4 linked regions of the Homo sapiens genome follow. The protein of the gene in region 3 interacts with the protein of the main gene of each other region in a biochemical or structural test. Each region holds a gene or a part of one and is shown on either strand. Other genes may lie near its edges.

Region 1 (3,500 bases), on a different chromosome or scaffold from region 3:
GTGCCCTTCATTAGGCTGCAGAGAGGTCAAGCCATGGCTCCTCCCCGCAGCCTCAAGGGGAGTGTATCGAGCTTCCTCCTCCCGGACCACCACCTCCTTCTTAGAGTGTGCGAAATAAAGAAATGATTCAACAGAGATTCAATGCAAAAAAGGAAATGCTGGCAAACAGGAAAGGGCTATAGCCAACAGTTTTGTTTTCCTTAAAGTCAGTGCCAAGAGGCAGTTGTCCTGATCCAAGGTCTCTGAGATGGGAGAAGAGAGGCCCCGAGGTTATATTTAGGAGCCACTTTCCTTATCCTGGGACTTCTTTTTTAGTAGACAAGGTCCCCAGACTACACCAAAGGCCTGTGCGATCAGGTCAGGGAAGGCAAGGGAAACAAAGAGGGACAGCTAGTTTGATCTCTTTGACCTCCATGGTGCAGAGCCTCAAACTGAGCACAGCTGTAGGAGCTGAAAATAAACTTGGATCCATTCAATGAATATTTATGATGGGCAACTGTGTTAAAGAACAAACAGCTTATAAATGCAAAGTGAATGTGAAAGATCTGTAACAGTGCAAAATCTCCACCTGCCCCGGAGGTTTGATCTAAGATTTGTTTCCTTATTTTTTTCATTTTAAAATTCAGATTTCCAGTACAAATACCCTTCCTTCCTTCCTTCCTTCCTCCCTCCCTTCCTCCCTTCTTTCCTTTTTGCAGATTAAAGTGAATTAAGGCTGGAATTTTTTTATTTGTTTTCTTTTGATTGACAGACACTGGATTTGATTTCTAGCCTGTGGCATACTCTAGAGACATTTCTTAGACAATCATCAAGATTGTTGATCTAATCTTTGAATACTGAACTCTGGTCATTTCAAAATAATAAAAGATCACAATGCAAGAAATGCTGATGGATAAGCCCCAGGGACAGGCGAGATGTCATTCTCAGAAAGCCAGATAGAGTCAAAGTGAGAGGTCGATGATTATAATGCATGCCACTCACTACATGCCTTTGTGAATTTCACGGCTTTAGACCCAAACCATCTTCTGCTAACTTACCATGTCTCATTGTAAGAGTGTAGAGAAACTACAGCTGGAGAATCAATGGTTTTGCAGAAAAGTTTCCTAAATTATTGTACTACAAAGGGCAAGAGCTCATGTGAAAAGTAAAAACATACCTTTGGTGACAGGCTAGAGAATATTTCCTTCCTGGTATTCCCCCTCCTCCAGGCCAGTTAGTGAGGCCCTTGTTATCTTTTAAAAAAAGACATCTGTTTTGTAACATTTCACAGTATATCAGCATATTGGTGGTGGGTTTTGCCATCTACCAGACCTCTCAATTTCCCCCAGACCTATGGCTTGTTGGATTCAATGAAAGGATCCGTGTGGGAACAGTGAGGTACCCTAACGTCTGCCAGTCTGAGACACAAACAAAGGCCATGCACTGAAGGGCCAGCCGTCAACTGGATCAAAATAACCTGGAAAACACAGACATCAAAACAGAAATGCCTACTGCATGTTAGGAATCTTTCTTTCTTTCTTTTTTTTTTTGCTTCTTATTTCTAAAGTTATATATCTAAACCTACATTAATGATACATCTATGTACAGTATTTAGCAGTTCTGTTCTATGGTACTTTTGTACATGCTGGGTTTTATTACTAATTACAAAAAGAAAATAATTACATAAGGCATATATATGTACAGTGGTTTGTCTTCAGCTCACCTGGGCCCTGTAACTGCCACACCCACATGGGGGCAAGCACCTCACCCTGTAGTAGATGAAATGAATTGGGATCCATAAAACTGAGGGCTCCACTCTGTGTCTCACTGAATGAATAAATAGGCACCAGAAACCTTGCTTGTCATATCCCAGGTAAAATCTTTGACACACCTTTTTGAGTGATCTGGTATTGTACAACACATGCAGGTAAGTAACTGAAATCTCCAGGAGTTGGATGTGTAGTATTTTGGGAGGAGACCAGGCTTGGGCCACAAATGAGGGCACTTTGCACTTTCATCAAATCCATGTCTACCTTGTCAATCTGAATAACTGAGAGAGGGCAGGTAGATATTTTACACCTTGAAGATTTGTTTTCTGGTCATGTAAAAATTAAATATAAACAAATAAAGAACAAAGCAAGAGAGACAGAAAAAGAAAGAGAATGAGAGACAAGGAAAGATTGTGTTGGGGGGAGAAGAGAAGGGTTTGCCCAGCTAGGGCACTAAACTTTGGATTCATTCTCCAGGTTTGCCACATCACCATTTCTTTCTGTTTGCTCTTCGAGGTTCTTTTCTTCCTCTTCAGTCTCCAGTTCTGCATGTTGGTTGAGTTTGCTGGATACAGACCAACTCAGGGGCAGCTCTGCCCTGCTGGCTAACTCGGCCAGCTCTTTGGCACTAAGGGATGGGGTGCTGGTCTCATAGGTCTCATGGAAGCTGTTGTAGTCAACTTCGTAGAACCCGTCCTCCAGGGTCAGGACAGGTGTGAACCGGTAACCCCACAGGATCTCACTGGTGATGTAGGAGCTTCGAGCTTGGCATGTCATCCCTGCAGAGAGAAGAATGGAGGCTTTAGCATATGTAAGTGTGGGCTTTCCATGGCCAAGGAGTCACAGAGAGCCAGGAGGAGTACTGCATGCAGCTGTTGAGACTGACCTGCATACGATGCCACACTTAGTAGGTGTCATTCATGTTGTAGACACATGCTAATGTGCCATGGAGATTCCAGGCCTCTTAAGGGAGTCCTGGGGAACAATGAGAGAGTCCTGGCCCACATCAAGCCACATTTGCCTGCATGGCCATGCACATGCAAAGGAAATCAAGTGTGCAAATGCACACAAGTTTTCGCATGTGCATGGCTATGTCTGGTCCACTCTGCTCTGGGAGAACCCTGAAGCCATGACTCTGGCCTCCTACTGCTCTTGGAGGTTTAGCCTGGGTTCTAATGGGATTTGAGCTCTTTGGCCACAGACTTAGAATGAAATTTCATATATGGAACTACACTTAGGCTGCTTTTAAGCTAGAGGCCACAGATCAGTGTTACCCTCCCACCTGCCATTAACACACAGGCCATGACTGTGGCTCCAGATGCAGTTGGAAGGGTCACCCACCTGAATTTGCACTTTACTTAGGCCCAGTGGTCATAGTTGCTCAGACTGTGCAATCATAACTACTTTAAAAGCTTTTCCCCCTTCTTTTTTTTTTTTTTCTTTGAGATGGAGTCTCGCTGTGTCGCCCAGGCTGGAGTGCAGTGGTGCGATCTCGGCTCACTGCGACCTCCACCTTCAGGATTCAAGCAATTCTCCTGTCTCAGACTTCTGAGCAGCTGGGACTACAGGTGCACACCGCCATGTCCGACTAATTTTTTTTTGTATTTTAGTAGAGACGGAGTTTCATCGTGTTGCCCAGGCTGTTTATGAACTCCTGAGCTCAGGCAATCCGCCTGCCTCAGCCTCCCAAAGTGTTGGGATTACAGGCGTGAGCCACTGCTCCTGGCCACTTTTCCCTTTTCTTAAAGATAA
Region 2 (3,500 bases), on a different chromosome or scaffold from region 3:
AAACACCCCCTCCTCCGCCCGCAAACACCCCCTCCTCCGCCCGCAAACACGACCCCTGATCAGGCAGCAAGCTCAGCAAGCTCAGCCGATGGCTCCTGCCCGCCCGAGGCTTGGGCCAGAGGGGCCGGCACTCAACTGTCTTCACCCCCATACAGGAAAAAACATGCATCTGATTCCACCAATGGAGCAGCAAGCAAACCGGATGGTGGCTGGCGCTTGGTGGGGCCCAGGGGTGGTTTCTGGGTCCCCCCTTGTCACCCTCACTCAACTGTGTCCAAAACCTGAGCCTCACAGGCCCCCAACCACGCGCCATGGCGGAGGCCAACACAGCGGGACCTAAACACCCCAAGCTGCTATGTGGGGGCCGGACACCAGTGCAGATGCCTTTTCTCTTGTGAGCTTTTGCATCCAGGTGAAAACGCCTCAGGAAGGCCGAAGCCACTGGATGCAGCCACACCTGCATCTGTCACTCCACTTTCTTTGTGCACAAGCAGCCAGGACAGCTCTGGGGACTGGGGGGCGGCGTCTGTGGAGGACAGCCCTGCACATTTTTACTATCTGAACTTTTAGTATGTGCATGAACAGGCACTATCCCATTCGAAGAACTTTTCAAAATGTAAACTCTACCTTAGCCCACCCTGCATTTCCTTCTCTAGGCAGGCATTTCTTCTACAGATCCACCTGCACAGGGACACAAGGACAAGGTGGAAGGACCCTCCTGGACGCTGTCTATGCAGCATCTGCCAGTGGGGACAGGCGGGATCCTGTTGCTCAGTCCCGCCTGTTCAACAGGGCATTAAGAGGCAGAGGCCAGGCCGGGCGCGGTGGCTCACACCTGTCACCCTAGCACTTTGGGAGGCCAAGGCGGGCGGATTACGAGGTCAGGAGTTTGAGACCAGCCTGGCCAATATGGTGAAACCCCATCTCTACTAAAAATACAAAAAAAAAAAAAAATTAGGCTGGGTGTGGTGGCTCACGCCTGTAATCCCAGTACTTTGGGAGGCCGAGGCGGGTGGATCACAAGGTCAGGAGATAGAGACCATCCTGGCTAACACGGTGAAACCCCGTCTCTACTAAAAATACAAAAAAATAGCTGGGAGTGGCAGCGTGTGCCTGTAGTCCCAGCTACTTGGGAGCCTGAGGCAGGAGAATTGCTTGAACCCAGGAGGCAAAGGTTGCAGCGGGCCAAGATCACGTCACTGCACTCCAGCCTGGGTAACAGAGCAGGACTATGTCTCAAAACAAACAAACAAGCAGACGCCAGGCATCAGGCCTGTGAGTGCCACAGGCCGCAGAGAAGCGTCTTTGGCAGCAGGTCCAGGTGAGCAGCCGAGGGCACAAGCCACGCCGCTTTCCAAGGCATCAAGCAGGTATAAAATCACTGCTGGGATATGCACTGCATTTGGTCTCATGCAAACAAGATCTGTCCAACATTTGCTAAAAGTTAAGGGCTTTTTTTTTTTGAGACGGAGTCTCACTCTGTTACCTAGGCTAGAGTGCAGTGGTGCAATCTTGGCTCACTGCAACCTCCACCTCCCAGGGTCAAGCAATTCTCCTGTCTCAGCCTCCTTAGTAGCTGGGATTACAGGTGCCTGCCACTGCACCCGGCTAATTTTTGTACTTTTAGTAGTGACGAGGTTTCGCCCTGTTGGCCAGGCTGGTCTCGAACTCCTGACCTCAGGTGATCCACCTGCCTCGGCCTCCCAAAGTGTTGGGATTACAGGCGTGAGCCACCGTGCCTGGCCAAGGTAAGGACATTTTTTTTTTTTTTGAGACGGAGTCTCGCTCTGTCGCCCAGGCTGGAGTGCAGTGGTGCGATCTCAGCTCACTGCAAGCTCCGCCTCCAGGGTTCACACCATTCTCCTGCCTCAGCTTCCCGAGTAGCTGGGACTACAGGCGCCCACCACTGCACCTGGCTAATTTTTGTACTTTTAGTAGAGACAGGGTTTTGCCGGGTTGGCCAGGCTGGTCTCGAATTCCTGACCTCAGGTAATCCACCTGCCTCGGCCTCCCAAAGTGCTGGGATTACAGGCGTGAGCCACCGCGCCCGGCCAAGGTAAGGACATTTTGAAAAGCTTGTCTTCTGTCCAAGTTCAGCTGACAGTTACTGGTAATAATGTGTGATTCAGGGGTGATGGTCTCGGACATGGGCCCCAGGAGGCCCAGTGCCCCAAGCACTTTCAAGAAAGCTGACCAAGGGGGTCGGCGGAGGACCTGCACCCAGTCACATAACCAAGGCGCCAGCAGATATGCACCTGGCCACATAACCACGAGGGTCCACAGAGGATCTGAACCCACCACATACCCAGCGGGGTCAGAGTGCGGTCCTTCTCCAGGGAGCCATCCACGTGGTACTGGGAATGCCTGATGAGGAAGATGTGCCGCGTGGCCTTGGCTTTGTAGTGGTCCAGCTTGGACGCCAGCTCTTCTTCCCCAGATTCCACGTTCCTCTTCCGCACGTTGATCAGAGACAGTGGTTCTCGCCTGATGTTGAAATACAAGATATGTCCTTGAGACCTCTGTTCCCAAGTTTGAGTTTTTCTGACAAGATGTTATTTCCAAATTGTCAGACTATTTGGGAAGAGCATGGAGAGAAGACAAGGCCCTTGGCACAGCCCTGGGGAGGCCTCTCTGAGCATACCGCCACTCTCCCTCCCACAAAGCTAGTGCCAGGTCTGTTCTGAGTGATGCGCTGGAGAGCAAAACAGACAAGCAAAGCCCTGTGCATCTTCTTCTCTAATGAGAGGCAGACAGTGAACAGCAGGAGACAGACTACCCCAAACGCAACTGTGGTTACGGAGAACGCCAGGCTAGGAAAGAGGACAGCGGCTATCGGGGCGCAGGCGGAAAGTGTCCACGGGGCCAAGATGGGCCTCCCTGACCATGATGCTTCAGCAGAGCCTAGAACTGCAATGCCCAACAGCAGCCACTAGCTATGAGGATGTTTCAATTCAAAATTTAAGCAAAATTAAATAAAATTAAAACATCATGTCCTCAGTCATACTAAGCACATTTTAGACCCTCAGGCCGGGTGCAGTGGCTCACACGTGTAATCCCAGCATTTGGGAGGCTGAGGTGGCCAGATCAACTGAGGTCAAGAGTTCGACACTAGCCTGGCCAACATGGTGAAATTGCACCTCTACTCAAAATACAAAAATTAGCCGGGCTTGGTGGCACACGCCTGTGATCCCAGCTACTTGGGAGGCTGAGGCAGGAGAATCGCTTGAACCTGGGAGGCGGAGGTTGCAGAGAGCCGAGATCGTGCCACTGCACTCCAGTCTGGGCGACAGAGTGAGACTCCGCCTCAGAAAATAAATAAATAAACAAACACTCAGTGAGGAAGAAAACATTCCCATTATGAAGGTCTGTTCCAGAGCTGCTGGAATCTGAAAAAGAGTGGATCCCAGCACTTTGGGAGGCCGAGGTGGGCAGATCACTGGAGCCCAGGAGTCCAAGACTAGCCTGGGCAACACAGGGGGACCCCGTCTCTACAAAAACAT
Region 3 (3,500 bases):
TTATTATATACATATTATATATTTTGATATTATATATGATATATCATATATTATATATTAATCATATATAATATATTGTATATAATATAATTTATATCATATATATTATATATCATGTATAATATATATTATATAATATATATAGAAACACATATTTCTTTTATAACTTAAAATACTCAAAGGCCGGCACAGTGGCTCATGCCTGTAATCCTGGCACTTTGGGAGGCCAAGGCGGGCAGATCACATGAGGTCAGGAGTTCAAGACCAGCCTGGGCAACATGGTGAAATCCTGTCTCTACTTAAAATACAAAAAAGGCTGGGTGTGGTGGCTCACACCTGTAATCCCAGCACTTTGGGAGGCTGAGGTGGGTGGATCACGAGGTCAGGAGTTCGAGGCCAACCTGGTTAACATGGTGAAACCCCGTCTCTACTAAAAATACAAAAATTAGCCAGTTGTGGTGGCGTGCGCCTGTAATCCCAGCTACTCGGGAGGCTGAGGCAGGAGAATTGCCTGAACCCAGGAGGCGGAGTCTGCAGTGAACAGAGATCGCAGCCATTGCACTCCAGCTCTGGGCGACAGAGCAAGACTCTGTCTCCGAGGGGAAAAAAAGAGATACCAAAAAAAAAAAAATTAGCCAGGTGTGGTAGCACACGCCTGTAATCCCAGCTACTTGGGAGGCTGAGTCACCAGAATTACTTGAACCCAGGAGGTGGAGGTTGCAGTGAGCTGGGATCATGCACTGAACTCCAGCCTGGGTGACACAGCAAGACAATGTCTCAAAAACAAATAAATAAAATAAAATATTCAAAATACCCTTTTATTTTTTTTGAGTCGGAGTCTCGCTCTGTAGCTCAGGCTGGAGTGCAGTGGCGCAATCTCGGCTCACTGCAAGGTCCGCCTCCCGGGTTCACACCATTCTCCTGCCTCAGCCTCCCAAGTAGCTGGGACTACAGGCGCCTGCCACCACGCCCAGCTAATTTTTTGTATTTTTTTTTTTTTTTAGCAGAGAGGGGTGCCAGGATGGTCTAGATCTCCTGACCTCGTGATCCGCCCGCCTCAGTCTCCCAAAGTGCTGGGATTACAGGCGTGAGCCACCACGCCCGGCCTTAAAATACCCTTTTTATGTTTTGAATTCAACACCTAAAATAACATATCAAAAATGTGAACATGTAAAGAAAGATGGGGTCATTGACATGCACAATCCCACAGCTAATTGGAAACAAAGTCAATAACCTGTACTGTGGTACCCAACGTAGGGCTCTTTCCAAACACTGTAGCACATGACCTCTAAGATACAGAAACAGTATTTGTTAAATTCTAAAGTATTTTTTATCTTATCACTACTGTTTGTCTCTTCATATCTACTCACACAATGTCCTTTAATAGTGCTAACAGGTTACATTTTATAAAACTATTACCAGATTATCTCACAGAGATAAAGCTTGAGAATTGACAGCTCATGATAATCTCCCAGCCTCAAAAGAACAATGGAAAAACAAACAAACACACAAAAGCAAAATAAAAACAGACGAACATAAAAAAGCAAAAAAAAAAAAAAAAGAAGAAAGGCGGCCTGGTGTGATGGCTCGCGCCTGTAATCCCAGCACTTTAGGAGGCCAACGCAGGCAGATCACGAGGTCAGGAGAATGCGACCATCCTGGCTAACATGGTGAAACCCTGTCTTTACTAAAACACACACACACACACACACGGTGAAACCCTGTCTTTACTAAAACACACACACACACACACACACACACACACACACACACACACACACACACGAGAATGCGACCATCCTGGCTAACATGGTGAAACCCTGTCTTTACTAAAACACACACACACACGGTGACACCCTGTCTTTACTAAAACACACACACACACACACACACACACACACACACACACACACACACTCTAAGCCGGGTGTGGTGGCGGGTGCCTGTAGTCCCAGCTACTTGAGAGGCTGAGGCAGGAGAATGGCGTGAAGCCGGGAGGCAGTGCCTGCAGTGAGCCAAGATCGCGCTACTGCACTCCAGCCTGGGCAACAGAGCCAGACTCCGTCGTCTCAAAAAAAAAAAAAAAAAAAAAAAAAACAGAAGAAAGGCATTTGTTTTGCCATATTTATCCTTGGAATCCTACCACATACTACAATGAATGCCTGGAACACATTAAGTGCTCAATGAATGTTTATTTCATAAACTGTAGGTTTTGCTCTCTGCTAATACTACCTACCAGACTTAAATATTAGACCAAACAAAAACAGTGAAATATCATTATTTTATCGCTAAACATTTACAATATAAATACAGGATTTACTAAAGAAATTAATGTTTACAATGAAATAAAAGGAGAACATTTATTTACTAAATTAGTAAATTTATTTAGTAAAATTTATGTTACTAAAATATTTTAAGCACTATACAAATTAGCTGGTCCATTAATTATAATAATTTTGAGAAACTGCTCACTTCCTGAAAATGAAAAAAAAAAGGAAGACAAAATAAAATAAAAACCAAAGAAAAAAATAATAATTCTTAACTATTGAAATGGTCCTGGCTAACCTTTAGATATTATTACTTTGTCAGCCTAGTTGGAATCATCCAATGCACTAGAAAGCAATAAAATTACAGGTATAGTACAAGGGCCACTAGACTAGAACCTAGACTCTAGTCCAAGCTTTGCTAATAATCAGATATATTACGGTGGGCAATATTTTTTTTGAGTCTTAATCTATTTCTAAAAACGAGACAGCTGGGCCAGGTGCAGTGACTCACTTTTTCACCTGAGGTCCCAGCACTTTTTCACCTGAGGTCGGGAGTTTGAGACCAGCCTGACCAACATGGAGAAACCCCGTCTCCACTGAAAATACAAAATTAGCCGGGCGTGGTGGCGCATGCCTGTAATCCCAGCTACTCGGGAGGCTGAGGCAGGAAACTGCTTGAACCTGGGAGGCAGAGGTTGAGGTGAGCCGAGATCGCACCATTGCACTCCAGCCTGGGCAACAAGAGTGAAACTCCATCTCAAAACAAAAACAAAACTAGACAGCTGAACTCCTAATCACTATAAACTGTTTTAGTCTTAACTTTTTATTTGTTTTTGAGGTGGAGTCTCACTCTGTGGCCCAGGCTGGAGTTGAATGTTGCGTTCTCAGCTCACGGCAACCTCCGCCTCATGGGCTCAAGTGGTTCTCCTGCCTCAGCCTCCCAAGTAGCTGGGACTACAGGGGTGTACCGCCACACCCAGCTAATTTTTGTATTTTTAGTAGAGATGGGGTTTCACCATGTTAGCCAGGCTGGTCTTGAACTCCTGACCTCAGGTGATCCGCCCACCTCAGCCTCCCAAAGTGCTGGGATTACAGGTGAAAGCCACCGCACTTGGCCCTAGTCTTAACTTTTTTAAAAAATATGTTCTTATCTACAAAGAGTCTACAATTCAGATTTTTGTTTCTTTGTTTTGTTTGAGACAGGGTCTCACTCTTTCGCCCAGGCTGGAGTAC
Region 4 (3,500 bases), on a different chromosome or scaffold from region 3:
ACTTTCTACAGATTACAAGAATATTCCTCATTTCTAATCTAATTAAATTTTAATATCCTATAGTAAAAGAGTAAGTCATGCTGAAAAAAAAGGCATCAATAGGGACAAGCATTATAAGTAAAAGGCTACAAAAAAAGTTAAATTCTTGAAAAGTGTTCTAATGCATGCTACACTGTATTTCATTTAACTAGCCCCCCCCACTGATGAACATTTCAGTTGTCTCCAATATTTTGCCATCTCAACAATAATGCAATAAATATCCTACTAAATGTCAAAATTTTTTTAAAGTTGTTAGGTGGGCACAGTGGCTCACGTCTGTAATCTCCAGCACTTTGGAGGCCGAGGCGGGTGGATCACCTGAGCTCAGGAGTTTGAGACCAGCCTGGGCAACATTTTGAGACCAGCCTGGGCAACATGGCAAAACCCCATCTCTACATACACACACACACACACACACACACACACACACACACACACACACACACACACAATTAGCCTGACATGGTGGTGTGTGCCTGCAGTCCCAGCACACACACACACACACACACACACACATACACACACACACACACACACACAATTAGCCTGACATGGTGGCGTGTGCCTGCAGTCCCAGCCACTCGGGAGGCTGAGGTGGGAGAATGCTTGAGCCTGGGAGGCAGAGGTTGCAGTGAGCTGAGGTCGTGAGCCTGGGTGACAGAGTAAGACCCCATCTCAAAAAAAAAAGTTGTTAAAGCAGCTTTTTATCCTTTTTTTCCAAGCAGCTTTTTAATGGCAGTGCATAGATATGTCTTTATAAATCACTATTTTCTCATGGAGTTTCATTGGTCAGCATCTCTGCTTTGATGACAAGGCAATAAACAAAAACTACCTCCAAAAAAGACTTTCCACAAACTACTTTTACCCAAGTTCAAAGCCTCTCTCATCACTTGTCTCATCTCCCTGAATCTACTCCTGCCTCCTACAATCCTTCCTTCACAGCAGCCAGAGAAATATTTTTAAATAGATCAGCTCATGCCACTCCCCCGATCACATCCTTCTATGATTTTGCATTGCTCTAAAAATACAATCTACACTCCTCTCCATGGTCCACATGACACTAAAGACATTAAGAATCCCTATGTGGTCTGCTCCCACCTACCTCCCACCTTCCCAGCCTCACAGCTCCCACACTTGCTCTCTCCTAGCCTTCAATCACTCCGAGATCTTCTCCCACTTCAGCACTTTTGCATGTGCTGTTTCCTAAAACCTGGAATACTCAATGCCTAGCACGGTACCTGGCACAGAGTTATCCCACCATAAATAATTCTTCAATGAATGGATAGATGTTTCATTAGAGTAGGCCAGTGGGATGATAAAAACTTGAACCATTATCTTTAAAATAGACATTGTAAAGGCCAGGTACAGTGGTTCACATCTGTAATCCTAGTACTTTGGAAGGCCGAGGCAGGCAGACAGCTTGAGCCCAGGAATTTGAGACCAGCCTGGGCAACAGAGCAAGACCCTAACTCTACAAAAAAATAGAAAAATTGGACAAGTTTGATGCCACGTGCCTGTAGTCAGTCCCAGCTACTCAGGAGGCTGAGATGGGAGGATCACTTGAGCCCAGGAGGTCGAGGCTGCAGTGAGCCAAGATTATGCCACTGCAGTCTCCAGCCTGGGCAACAGGGTAAGACCCTGTCTCAAAAAAAAAAAAAAAAAAAAAAGACATTGTATGTGTGTATATACATGTATGTGTAGACAGATATACATATTACAGAAACACATACAATGTGTATTTGTGTTTATATGAGTATACAAATATACATATATACACATACATTCTAAACAGTATATTCTATACCAATACATTTCAAATTTCAGGCTTGTGTGGTAGCTCATGCCTATAATCCCAGCACTTTGGAAGGCCAAGGTGGGCAGATCACTTGAGGCCAGGAGTTCAAGACCGGCCTGGCCAACATGGTGAAACCCCATCCCTACTAAAAATATAAAAATTAGCCAGACATGGTGGCACGCACCTGTAATCCCAGCTACTCAGGAGACTGAGGCACAAGAATTGTTTGAACCCAAGAGGTGGAGGTTGCAGTGAGCCAATATTGTATCACTGCACTCCAGCCTGGGTGACTGAGTAAGACTCTATTTCAAAAAAAAAAAATTTCAAATTTCATTTTGGTACTAGCTTTATCAAATTCATTTGATGCTGGCATAAAAGTCTGTCTCCCTCTCTAAATTCAGTGCTCCTCGCGAACATGGATAGTATTTTTCCTATTTCAGTGTTGTCAAAGAGCGTCACATATACACATTTGCTCAAGGCACAAAGTCCTCCAAAATTCATAGTAATGAACTGGGCTGCATTTTAGGGCATCTGAATCCATTTCAGGGTCTCCAATCCTTGGTTGGGGTCCACAACTCCCAGAGACCTTGCCAACATCACTTTTTGCCTCTTTCTTCCTTAAAAACATTGGCGTTGGATGGCAAGTACTGTCTGTGTTTCCCAGAGGGAAGGGGAATAAGCTGAGTTTCTCTATTGTTCTGTGGCTGCCTAACAAAGTACACCACGGCCTGCTAGGACAATTACAAACATGAGTTGGCTCTGCTTTTCCAGCATCATGTGCCACTCATAACAGTCTCCACATTGACCATGGACACGAGGGGTAAGTCATCTTAGCAGTGGCCTCTGCACTTGAGCAACTCTAACCAAAAACTTGGCCTTACATCAGGACCTAACGTTAATAAAGACATCCCAGTTTCCACTGCAAAGACACAGAACTGTTATTTTTCAGCAAGGCAAGTTTATTTACTCCCGCAGGAGATAAACAAACGTGGCCACCAGGGAGAGCCCAGGACAAAATGTACTTGACCTGCAAGAGATAAACCAAAAGCCTCCAGTCTCAGAACAAGCTCAATTTTCTGCCCCTCTCAGCTCATCGTCGCGTATGGATTTCAGAGCAACAAAAACAGATGTAAAGGAGGTACCACATGCTGAAGGAAGAGTTGGAAAATACAGGCAGCTTTGTTGGTTTCACAAAGGCAGAAAAGGGCAGAGAAGCAACCTCAAAATCTAAATCCAGTACTATCACTGCTACATGATCAAGGGAGGAGTCACTTAATTGCTGAATGCCTTAGTTTTCCTACCTATGATGCTGAGAGATATCAGTACATTGAATATACTTACATTTTAATTACTGGATGCATATAAAAGCCGAACCCAAGAGGAGTTATTTTGATAATTAAGCAAAACAAAATTCAGACTACTAATTGTCATTCAGGTGTCAGCTCACACGATCACCTTCTCTAAACCACCTATCAAAACTAACTGCATTCTCCCATCCTCACATTTCTGTGGGATTTTTTCCCTCCTAGAATTTATTACTACCTGAAATTGCCCTATTTAGTCATGTGTTTGTCTGCTCTCTCTCAGCCATGAAAATAGCAATATTTTCCTATCTTACTGCTTTATCCTGCCTGGCTCATTAACTTCCTGTTGAATGAATTAATAC

Evidence for each region. Proteins that work in one complex are often made in the same cells at the same time.
Region 1: the proteins of XIAP (region 3) and KCNJ6 form a complex in vitro, tested with the Homo sapiens proteins (one study listed by BioGRID).
Region 2: the proteins of XIAP (region 3) and PGAM5 form a complex in vitro, tested with the Homo sapiens proteins (2 studies listed by BioGRID, with this or other methods).
Region 4: of the proteins of XIAP (region 3) and PTPN11, one has a biochemical effect on the other in vitro, tested with the Homo sapiens proteins (one study listed by BioGRID).

The regions. Positions count from the first base shown.
Region 1 is NC_000021.9:37,622,958-37,626,457, forward strand, and holds part of KCNJ6 (G protein-activated inward rectifier potassium channel 2), read right to left. Parts: intron 2,528-3,500; coding exon 2,202-2,527; 3' UTR 1-2,201. UniProt on the Homo sapiens protein: Inward rectifier potassium channels are characterized by a greater tendency to allow potassium to flow into the cell rather than out of it.
Region 2 is NC_000012.12:132,713,842-132,717,341, reverse strand, and holds part of PGAM5 (serine/threonine-protein phosphatase PGAM5, mitochondrial), read right to left. Parts: intron 2,485-3,500; coding exon 2,306-2,484; intron 1-2,305. UniProt on the Homo sapiens protein: Mitochondrial serine/threonine phosphatase that dephosphorylates various substrates and thus plays a role in different biological processes including cellular senescence or mitophagy. Modulates cellular senescence by regulating mitochondrial dynamics.
Region 3 is NC_000023.11:123,863,053-123,866,552, reverse strand, and holds part of XIAP (E3 ubiquitin-protein ligase XIAP), read right to left. Parts: intron 1-3,500.
Region 4 is NC_000012.12:112,421,947-112,425,446, reverse strand, and holds part of PTPN11 (tyrosine-protein phosphatase non-receptor type 11), read right to left. Parts: intron 1-3,500. UniProt on the Homo sapiens protein: Acts downstream of various receptor and cytoplasmic protein tyrosine kinases to participate in the signal transduction from the cell surface to the nucleus. Positively regulates MAPK signal transduction pathway. Dephosphorylates GAB1, ARHGAP35 and EGFR.